Linked DNA regions of Homo sapiens. The protein of the gene in region 3 purifies or fractionates together with the protein of the main gene of each other region. This does not show direct contact. Each region holds a gene or a part of one and is shown on either strand. Other genes may lie near its edges.

Region 1 (4,208 bases), on a different chromosome or scaffold from region 3:
TTTGGAACCTTGGGTCCATCTATGATTTGCCTGACTGGTACTTTCTTGTACTCCAAGCATATATTTACACACTGACAGCCAAAAGTCAGGAGTCTGCTTAAGGGATGGCTTTTTAGTCCATACAATCTTCTCTAGTAACTTATCTCCAGCTTCAACCTTTTTCCAGGTTTGCTTCTGGGGGTCATGACTCTCTCTGTTTCTTATTTAGACACAAGTTCTCCTTATTTAGGATTTCATCAGGAAGAAATCAAATCCCACATACACAGCACAGACTGAAGTATCTGATTTTTAAATGCTTTATTACATTAACTTTAGTATCATTAGCAGATGAATATAATCAGATTAACAAACTGGTTTGGCCACAAGGAAAAGAAAAAACATTTCTGAAGCTTCACAAAACTATGTGTGTAGTGTGCAAACTAGAACCAGTTATACTTTCATCACTTCACAGAACACAAGTAGTGTGGTGCATCAAGAGATGTTCCACTGCTGCACCATCACCTCCAAACTGTAGAGGAGAGATGAAGGCAAACTTTGGAGGAATTTCCAAGGCAACTGCAGTCAAACATTATCTGTAAAACTGCAGGTATAAATGGCATTATACAAAAGCTCAAACATCCTTCAAAACTTGGACTATTGAAGTCTACAATTAAATTTCAATTTTTTTAACTTACAAGGAAATCATACTCATTTAAGATACAGTTACCTCTACTTTAATCCCCAGCTCAGTCAGATATTTGTAGTCTTATCAGAAATATTTGTATTAGGTAGTTGTTTTATTTCCTATTCTATTGCTTACAATTTTAAAATCCACATTAATAACTCAGAGTAACATTTATACATAGATTAACAGAAAGGTAAACTTTAATTTCCAAATTAGGAATGAAGAAAGATGTTAAATGGCTTTGCTTTAAAAGAAACAGTACAACTGTATAGGTATAAATAATGGTTTTGTGACAATAAACATGAATTTAATACAAAGATACCAGTGCTTTTGGGCCAAAGCCAATAGACTTGACTTTTTAGAAATAAGCCTAGTTTACTTCATTAAAGTAAGTGTTACGGCTGCTATAATGTGTCTGGTACTGATTCCAAACATATCCAGCAATTCACTAGTTTTCCCACGTTGAGGCACTCCTGACACTGCCAGTTGATGAACAAGGATATCAGGCTCCCTGGAGACAGCTGCACAAACAGCTTCTCCAATGCCACCTTCCCTGTAGTGATCCTCCACTGTGATAACTCGGCCGCCTGTGGCTTTTGCACTGGAGATGATGGTGGCGGCATCCAGGGGTTTAATGGTAAATGGGTCGATGACACGGACAGAAATACCTTGTTGAGAAAGATGGTCAGCAGCTTCTAAGGCTTCATGGAGAGTAACTCCAGCTCCAATTACTGTGACTTTATCATTGACACCGTGGCGGACCACCTTGGCCTGGCCAATCTCAAAATTTTCTTGTGGGGTATAAATAACTGCAGTTTCTGGTTGGCTGGTTCGAATGAAGCACATTCCCTTGGTATTGGCGGCTAGATAAATAGCATGCTCTGTCGAGATGGCATCACTTGGATAGAAAACAGTACAATTGGGAATGCTTCGGAACATGGCTAGATCCTCCAGGGCCATCTGGGAGACTCCATCTTCTCCAGTGGATACCCCACAGTGGGAACCAATAAGGTTGATATTGGCTTGAGAAATGGCTCCCATTCGGAGCTGATCGAATGCTCTAGTAAAAAAGGCAGCAAAAGCACCAGCAAAAGCAATGGTTCGACCACGTGTAGCACAGCCTAGTGCCACACTTACCATGTTTTGTTCAGCAATAATACACTCTATGAAACGCTCAGGGTGTTCTTTCCTGAATATCTCAGAAAAGGTGGAGTTCATCGTGTCACCACTCAGAACAATAACTCTTTCATTTGCACGGCCCAGTTTAGCCAGAGCCAAACCATATGTTTTCTGAGTAGCTATCTTGTCACCAACTTTGTAAGCAGGTGGGGAGGTCATTTTTATATCTGTGATGCTTATTTGAGGTGAGTCTTCCACAGGCGATTTTGGTATGAGATTCTCATTGGTCTGTATCTGACTCTCAATTAATTTGACAATTGCATCTGCTCTTTCTTTTGGCACTGGCTTTCCATGCCAATTTTCTGCATCCTCAATATTTGGAATACCCCGACCTTTGAAGGTCTTGGCAACTATAGCAGTAGGCTTGTTCTTCACTTGACTTGCTTGCCAAAATGCTTGGCACAAGGCCTCCACATCATGGCCATCCACTAAGTAAGTATTCCATCCAAAGGCTTCACAGCAATTCTGGTAGATGTCTGCGCCATGCTCAAGGGGTGCAGGGCCACTTTGTCCCAAGCGGTTCACGTCGAAGACCGCCACGAGATTGTCCAAGTTGTAGTGGGAGGCAAAAGCAAAAGCCTCCCACACAGAGCCTTCTGAGGATTCGCCATCTCCCATAAGGCAGAACACCCGGTAGCTGGCCTTGTCAAGGTACTTGCCAGTATAAGCCATTCCACATGCAGTACCTAATCCCTGACCTAGGGACCCTGTTGCCACGTCAACAAACGGCAATCGGGGGGTAGGGTGTCTCTCCAAGTCGCTGTGAAGTTTCCTCAGGTTCAGCAAGTCAGATTCACTGATGTCACCCACCTCCACCCAAGCAGCATAGAGGATAGGAGCAGCATGTCCCCTGGAGAGGATGAACCGGTCGTTGTCCGGGTGTTCTGGGTCTGTCTGTTTATACTTCATCGTGTGGAAGAAGAGGACAGACACGACCTCCGCTGCACTGCAGCACGACGTGAGCTGGCCAGAACCAGAGGCACACGTGGCCCTGATGGAATGGATCCGCAGGCGGTTGGCTGTGTCCCGCAGCACCTGCACGGTCTTCACGTCGGGCTTGGCGTCGTTGGCCATCATCTCTCTTTTGTCGGTTTGGCAAAGCAAACGGCGCCGCAGCACCCCCACAACCCACCGCGGCAGTGCTCTCACGTGACCGCCCCGCCCTCGCCTCCCCTCTGCCTGAAGGCCTGAGCTCAGCCACCAGCCGGGGCGCCCACAACGGAGCTTCCCGCGAGACTGAGGAAACGGAAACGTTGGAGTAGCCTGCACCCTCTGATGTGCACCGTTCCCTCTCCCTGTCCACGCCCAGCTGAATGGATTTTTAGTATTTACTTTGTCACGTGCATGTTCAACATTAGGAAGCATAATTAAATTTTTTACCTTTCCCTGTGTTATAAATTCAAGACTAGACATTTTTCTGTGTATTATAGGAAGCGATTTGTCAGGCTGTGCTTTTTTAATGCATTAACACTATATCCGAGTCATCACTCTTTCATATCAGAACATTAATAGAAAGGATACAAAGTCACTTTCAATCTGACCAGTATGGCAATGCTATCTCAACAGAGACTTTCTCAGAGCAACCAAATATCTGAATCTCAGACTTATAGAAAGAAATGCAATGACTAATTTGACCAAAATTTATAGGAAGAACAAATCTGAAACCACCCAATTGCAGAATAGAATTGCAACTCCAGTGTGCCGTAAAGTACTATTTCTGTGTTGAAATAATTAGAAGGCCAGTAGGCTGAGGTAGCTTCAGCTCCATGAGTTCCTACCTAAGGAAAGGAAACCCAAATCAGTGTAAATGATAAAAAGGAAATTTAAGCTTAATCAATCAGAAACTGCCAGCTAACTTCTAACTGGGGACTTTCCACTGGGATGACCCAAATAAGTCTAGTACTCCACTTTAACCAATCAAATATCTTTCCTTTGCTTCCAAATTCACCCTATAAAAGCCTTCTCCTTGGCTCCTTTATCAGGAGCTACCAGATTCATGAATCACTGAATGGTCAAATAAATGCTTTAATATTTTAATGTGCCTCAGTTTATCTTTTAATGACTATTACTACAAATCATTTTTAAGACAAAGTTACTTACTTTAAAAAACTAAATTTGTGGGCCGGGTGCTGTGGCTCACACCTGTAATCCCAGCACTTTGGGAGGCCGAGGCAGGCGGATCACAAGGTCAGGAGTTCGAGACCATCCTGGCTAACACGGTGAAACCCCGTGTCTACTAAAAATACAAAAAAATTAGCTGGGCGTGGTGATGGGCACCTGTAGTCCCAGCTACTCGGGAGGCTGAGGCAGGAGAATGGCGTGAACCTGGGAGGTGGAGCTTGCAGTGAGCCCAGATTGTGCCACT
Region 2 (3,654 bases), on a different chromosome or scaffold from region 3:
TCTGAAATTTATTCTTAATTTTTATCGATGTCAGCCATTCAATTGTATGTAGTTATAGTCAAGATACATACATATACAACTTCGTGATCTGTTTTTCACTTTACTTTCTTTGGTTTATGCATTCTTTTGTATCTACATACTTTGCATAATTCTAATTTTAATGGCTGTATATTAACACATCTTAATAATATGTACTCTGTTTAATCATTCCTCTAATACTGAGCAATTTGGATTTAAATTTTTACCCTTAAAAATAAGTCTGAACTCATAGTTACTGTAAAAAACAATTTAATTGATTTTATGTGCTCCTAAGTGAGTAGTAAATGTTTAAATGTATCTATGGGATATATGAGTTTCAGAGACATTTATGTGATTTGTCTGAATTTATTCAGAATAGGGAATTGTGACATTCTTAATTTATGAGTTTGTTAAGGGTTCTGTTTATTTTAAACTGAATAAATATTGGTTCAACGTTTTACCTACTCAAAATGATGGGTAAACTGGTATTTATCCACTACTATTTGTAAATTAAATATTAATGAAACATTTTGACTCATTTCATTTCAGTTCAAAATTTTATCAAATATCCTCTGTGTACATGAAATATTTTTTTCATTTAATGTTAATATGGCAAGAACTGTGGAAACAGAAGTAGAATGTTTTATTAAGTGACTTGCCACATTTTTTGGTAATTGTTTTGCTTTTGGACTTAAAGTCCAAAAAACAAGCTTACGTTTCACTTACCATTTGTTGATCTGACATCCCACATGTCAGCTATTCCTGGTGGCTCATCAACAACACAGAAAGTAAACGGAGACCCATAAGAATGTTCATTAACAGAGATAAGGACTGATGGAGAGTCAATGCAGATGGTTCTTCTTTCAGGAAAAATGTTTGGACAATAATCATTGATATCAGGAACCTCAATACATATGGTTCCTGTAGCTGTTTTTCCAGAGCCATCTGAAAGAGTAAGGGTCATTGGTGTTGAGGTAAATGGTGTTAGGGAGAAAACTCTTTCTCATATCCCCTGATGATGCCATGGAACTTGTAGGAAACATATACGTGACTTGGGAGGCTTGACAGGTTCCTGCCCGCTTCAGTGACCCAAAGTCACTCTTCCCTTTGTGTGCTACCTTCCAGCCACACTGCTTCTTTTGAGTTCTTTAAACAAGTTTCTTTTTTACTCTGGACTCTGGCACATTCTTTTCACCCTTCCTAAAATGTTTTCCACCCTCATTTCATTTTGCTAATTCTGACACATCCTAAGGCGCAAAATCAAATGTTCTTCCTCCGAGAAGGTTTACTGGTTTCTAATCTCACCCTGTTCCCATAAATTAGACCCCCAGGTCAGTTATGAACCTCCATTCAGGATGCTCACTGAGTCCTGTGTTTGTAGAAATAACCACAGCTGAAATAAATACTTGTTTGTGTTTTTCTTGTGTGCTCACTGTTTATTTTAATTGCATCTGTTACATGCTATTTCTTTCTGAAATGGCATTTCTGAAAACAAATATAAGTCTATTAGATTTTTCCCTAATCCACTTGAAACAAGTTTTTGGATAGTATAATTAATCAGAAAGGGCCAAAGACTAAAGATTAGGAGTCCAGGAGCTTTTTAGTCCACTTTTCTACTCTATGTTCTGTTACAGCGAATACGGAATTTTTTTTGCTTCTTTTTAACTTGAAAAGAATCTTAGCTTTCTCGCTTTTAAACTAGAACGTTGTCGTCTCTGGGGTACCTTACTAGGTCCTTTTCTGAGAAAGCAATAAATTCCTTTTACAGATGTTTTCTGTGTGCCTAAGTAGTAGTCATTGAGGTAACTGAATGAGAATAAACTGAGAGCCTACCTATAGTCTATATGATTTTGTATAATATGTTTATATACCCTATTCAGCATTGGACTTGTTTTTACTAGATGAAGGATGTCGATTTCACTTAGCTTCTCATTCGAGAGGCATCAGATTATTCCACAGATTGTTTTATTTGTCATTCTTTGATCTTTGGTAGCTCTTCTATTACCTTGTGATTGGCAACCAAAGCTCAAGCTATTGCTTATAGTGTTTGCTTCCCAGTAAAGTTTGCTCTGCATAGAGGTCTGTCTCTTCACCTGATGATGGTGTGTGCTGAAGCAAACTTATTCCAACCATTCAGATAGCTCTGTGCCAGTGCAGACACTCTGCTTAGGTGAATAAACAATCAGCTTTGTTTCTGGGTTTCTCTTGGTACATTTTGACAGCACTTTCTCTCTCTTTATTTGCTTGGAATGACTAATTATTTATTCTAGCATTTGAAGATTTTTCACATATGACCAATATGCAAACATAGGGTGCAATCAACATGGTTAGAATCCATTTTCAAATTAGAGCTTCCAGAATACTGATAATGAATAAGACAATGTTATTTATAAAACTGACCCAGGCGTTAAAATTTACCCGCCACAGGATGAAGCCCAGGATGTACAGATGATAGTTGGTTTGGTTTTATCATGGTTTCTTTTTGAATTTTATGCTGCTTCTTTATCTTTATTTTTGTTTTGATACTGGAAAGGTCAGCTATAAACTCAATGCAAACCTACAGTATCTGTCTTACATTAGGCATGTATCTTGGACGCCTGTCTTTCCCCTTCCTTCGTGGTTCCTGACCTTTGTCTCTTGTTTGGTTCTACAGCAGCTGGTTTCCTAGGCACTGCTTCATAGAATCATTAACTATTGATAAATAAACAAATCCTGTTGCTGCTCACCAAGAGGACTGCTTAACAGATTTACCCATGTGAGAGGTGGCTCGCTTACAAGTTAAGTCAGTGCATCTGTATTTATGACTTTTAATATGGATCTTATATTTGGAATAATCTGTGCTTTCTTGGTCCATAGCATCTTACTATGGAAATATGTCTAATCAAGCAACACTCACACAAGCTTCTCACTGTAGTTCAGTTTTAATGGATCTAAAATAATTGTATTCTTGGAGACATTGCTTTCCCACAAGGTGATCCCCAAATGAACTTTGTAGAGCACGTAGCCCTTACTTTAAGTAAACATTCCCAACATACCCTACAAGTGAGATTAGCCATACTCAAGAGACAAAGTCATAATCAGAAGATGAATTATATTTTAACTTTTATGCTGTAAGCCATATACAACTCAGTTTTGGAAGTAGATGAAATAAACTATGGCTTCAGTGTAAATTATGATTTTAATTGACTTCAATTCTTGATTTAAGGTGTTTAGGGCTTTCCATAAGTCTTGCATACACCATTAAAAATGTCTGAGTCACTCAAATATCAGCATTAGAATAACATAATATTTAATATAATAGTACTAGTTTTCTTAAAATACTGAAAATAAATTTTCTTACCATCTATAGCCAGGATCTCTGCTGTGTATATCCCATTGATAATATATTTTGACTTCTTATCAAATTCTCTAGAAAATTGTATCTCACCAGTTCTTGAATCAATTTTTAACCAGCTGCCTGCATCATGCCCTATGATATATCTGTTTTTAAATAAAAAAGTTCGTTATCATGCTTTTATGAAAGTTAGTACTTTTAAATCATGTAACAGCTACAATGTGGCAAACTTTAATATTGTGTTTTTATGTTTTATAGTGATGATTGCCTTGGTTTATAAAAAGTACATATATATCAATAAA
Region 3 (3,654 bases):
TCCTGACTTCCTGTGTTTTTTAATTTTTCCAAAAATGAGACAATTTGAGTGTTTTCATTTTTATAAATCTGTAACATTTGCATAAAATTCACAAAGCATACTGCCTTCTGCTTCTTCAGAGCTCACCACAGCAGCCTCTTATTCAGATGGACTTCCCCAATAGCAGCTCAAACACCAAAAATTACCCTTCCAGCGCCATTGTTTCTACAGTGCAACAGCTCTCAGGTTGGAAAGAAGAGAACAATTTCTTCTCTGACGGAGGCAGTTATTTCAGGCTTTACCACCTGCAATGGTTAACAGTAGGTGTCAACTTGACTGGATTGAAGGATGCCTAGATGGCTGGTGAGCAGTGTTTCTGGATGTGTCTGTGAGGGTGTTTCCAGAGAAGAATGATGCAGGAGTCAGTGGCCTAAGAGAAGCAGACCAACCCTCAATATGGATAGGCACCATCCAGTTGGCTGGTGGCCCCACGAGGACAAAGAAGGAGTGTGGGAAAAGATGGGGGATCCACCCTCTGCTCTGTCTCTCCCTGCCAGAGCAGGACTTTCTCCTCCTGCCCTTGGACGTGAGACTCCAGGTTCTTCAGCTTTTGGATTGTTGGACTTGTACCAGCAAGCTCCTAGAGGCTCTCAGTCTTTTGACCTCAGACTGGGAGCTGTACTGTTGGCTTCCCCAGTTTTGAGGCTTTCGGAATTGGACTGAGCCATGCTACCAGGCTCTCTGACAGCCATGCCACTGGCTTCTCTGGTTCTGCAGCTTGCTCATGACCTATGCTGGGACTTTACCTTTGTGATCGTGTTAGCCAATTCTCCCCTAATAAATCCATTTTTATAGATATATCCTATTGGCTCTGTCCCTCTGGAGAACCCTGACTAGTACACCATCCCAATGATATCTAAAGTCTTAAAGAGGAAATGTAATACTCCAAATAAAAATCTAATTGAAGAAGTAGATATAAAAGTTTCATGGGGAGTATAGCAGACAGACTCTAAGATGGTTTATGATTATCCTCATCTCCTAGTACTCACATCCTTGTTTAATCCCTTCCTTTTGAGTTAAGAAGGAACCTATGACTTGCTACTAGCCAAGAGAATACAGCAAAGGTGATGGAATGTCACTTGCATGATTCTATTACTAGCAGACTTTCTCCCTTGCTGGCTTTGATGAAGCAAGAGGCCATACTGGGAGGTTCACATAGAAGGAAATTGAGGGTAGCCTCTAGCTAAAGCCAGTAAGAAATTGAGGCCCTCAGTCCATCAGCCTGCAAGAGTCTGAATCCTGTCAATGCCCATGAGCTCAGTAGTGGATCTGCCCCACTCAAGCCTTCAGATGAAAGCCCAGCCATAGCTGACACCTTGATTGCAGCCAGCAAACTCCTGACCTACAGAGCTGTGGAATGACAGATAAGTGTTTTTTTAAGCCACTAGCTTTGTGGTAATTTGTTATGCAGCAATAGATAACAAATATAGGGGAGTATTTAAAAAACACTGTAGAAAATATGACTGTGATTCTAATTATCACCACTAAAATCTAACAATTGATTTGGGCTAGTTAGGAAAGATATTGTAATGCACTTCTAAAAAGTCTAAGAAATAGGATGATAGGGGTTAAGGGAGAGGGGTCATCCTCTACCTTTTTCTTGTGGAGAAGAAGGGGAGGGCTGTTGAAGGCAGCCCAGCGGCTGAGGGCTCTGCAAACCTGACACTAATAGAGCTGGTGTGTCTCAGCCAAAATACCAAGAATAGTGAAACCAAAGGGAAAAGCATATTGGCAGGTATGGGGAGTTAGAGCAAGAGCTGGGAAGCAAGAGAGACAGGGAATGTCAACATGGGCAGTGGGAGGATCCCAGAGCAGATGTCTGAGACAGAGAAAGGCTACTCCCAGAAGGAAGGGCTGGATGGCTAAGGTCAGCACCAGTGGAGACAAGGTCATTTATGTATGAGTATTACTAGCATATTAAGCTTTTTTAAAGCTCAATAATGGAACAGCCAGAAATTTTTCAGGCTTATCAACATCATTGAAGGGGCTTTTATAAAACTTCAGAGCCAGGAGGGCATTCAACTCTGAAAACTGAGGCGGGCTGATCACTTGGGGTCAGGAGTTCATGACCAGCCTGGCCAACAGGCTGAAACCCTGTCTCTTCTAAAAATACAAAAGTTAGCTGGGCATGGTGGCAGGCACTTGTAATCCCAGCTACTCAGGAGGCTGAGGCAGGAGAATCGCTTGAACCCAGGAGGCGGAGGTTGCAGTGAGCCGAGATCGTGCCACTGCACTCCAACCTGGGCGACAGAGCGAGACTACGTCTCAAAAAAAAAAAAAAAAAAAAAAAAAAAAAACTCTGAAGAGGTGCCCTGAAGCATATCCGCCCAGTGCTATAGCCATCCATCAGTCATTCCTGAGAGGGGTAGGCCACGAAGCCCAGAGAGATCGCCAAATGCACATCAGCGGAGAAGTGCTCAAAACCCTCTTGCCTCTTAAATCAAAGAGGTAGCTGTTGTAGCCCTTTTCACAGCCCATCAGTGAATTCTCCCAAGGTTTCTACAAGTTGTGTGTGTGCACATTTCACAAATCCACATGCTCATGGTACAAGTACACTTGCACAAAACAATAAACATTGGGGAAGAAAACATGATTATTACTTCTATTTAAAATCTGAGTTCTGCACCTTTGGGTGCTTGTCCTAGATTCTCTTCCCTAGTCTTACATTTGTACACAGATCATTTGTTCTTAATTTTATATTCCTCACACACAAAAAATGGAATCAATGACTAGGCACCCTGTTTCTGAGTCAGATTGTTCTCATAATATGAGGTACACCCTATGGGGAGGTACACGCCATTGGAAGGATCTTGTAGCAGGTAAAGGGACAGACATTTATTAATGCATATGTTGTGCCAGCAACTCTGTTCCATCTCTTTTACTCCTTGTAATTCCTCAGAGTGGAATAAGACAAAGCCTCCGGGAAGTTAAACAATTTACCTCTTACCCAGCCTTTGAGTGGCAGGACCAGAGTTCACGACTCAGGCACCTCTGGAACCAGGCCTGTGCTCTCTTCCACCATACCACACTCAGTTCTTCAATCTTTTGCAATTTCTATTGAGCTAAGCCAATTGAAAACCTCCTTGTAATTGGTAGGTTATCTGTATGGTGCTCTTTTGAATTAAGTATATAAACCAGGGGCATTTTCATGCAGGGTGGGTAAAATCATTTTATGTCTCTTAATCTTTGCTCCATTGTGAGTAAAATTATAGAATGTGACTTATTATATTCCTAAAATTAGACGCCAGAAGAATATTATATTCTCACAATAAGAAAATTTTATTCTAAAGGGGTAATATCCATCCATAAATGTAAACTACCTAAAATCAGATATGTATAATCCTTAATGGAAGGATGACAGCTGTGCATAAAATTTTTTTTGTAATATGCACTTCAGATACCTCTCCAATCTACTAGAAAGCACTGTCAGTGAGTTTGATTATCATCTTAATATACAGACAATTGTTAAATGGCATAATAGCCATCTTATCATTCATAATGCTAAATAATAGTTAATGACTAAATAATACCCTAGTGATCTAAAAGGACAAATGTCATCCAAATCTACTATACTCAGGAGAAGGGAAGGTTTATTCCTCCCAAGATGTCTGTCCC

The links.
Region 1: the proteins of SYT16 (region 3) and TKTL2 purify together in Homo sapiens (co-immunoprecipitation; one large-scale study listed by IntAct). This does not show direct contact.
Region 2: the proteins of SYT16 (region 3) and DSG4 purify together in Homo sapiens (affinity purification with mass spectrometry; 2 studies listed by BioGRID and IntAct, with this or other methods). This does not show direct contact.

Annotation. Positions count from the first base shown.
Region 1 is NC_000004.12:163,470,815-163,475,022, forward strand, and holds TKTL2 (transketolase-like protein 2), read right to left. Parts: upstream 2,941-4,208; 5' UTR 2,921-2,940; coding exon 1,040-2,920; 3' UTR 281-1,039; downstream 1-280. UniProt on the Homo sapiens protein: Plays an essential role in total transketolase activity and cell proliferation in cancer cells; after transfection with anti-TKTL1 siRNA, total transketolase activity dramatically decreases and proliferation was significantly inhibited in cancer cells.
Region 2 is NC_000018.10:31,400,725-31,404,378, reverse strand, and holds part of DSG4 (desmoglein-4 isoform 2 preproprotein), read right to left. Parts: intron 3,499-3,654; coding exon 3,359-3,498; intron 964-3,358; coding exon 745-963; intron 1-744.
Region 3 is NC_000014.9:61,819,152-61,822,805, reverse strand, and holds part of SYT16 (synaptotagmin-16), read right to left. Parts: intron 1-3,654. UniProt on the Homo sapiens protein: May be involved in the trafficking and exocytosis of secretory vesicles in non-neuronal tissues. Is Ca(2+)-independent.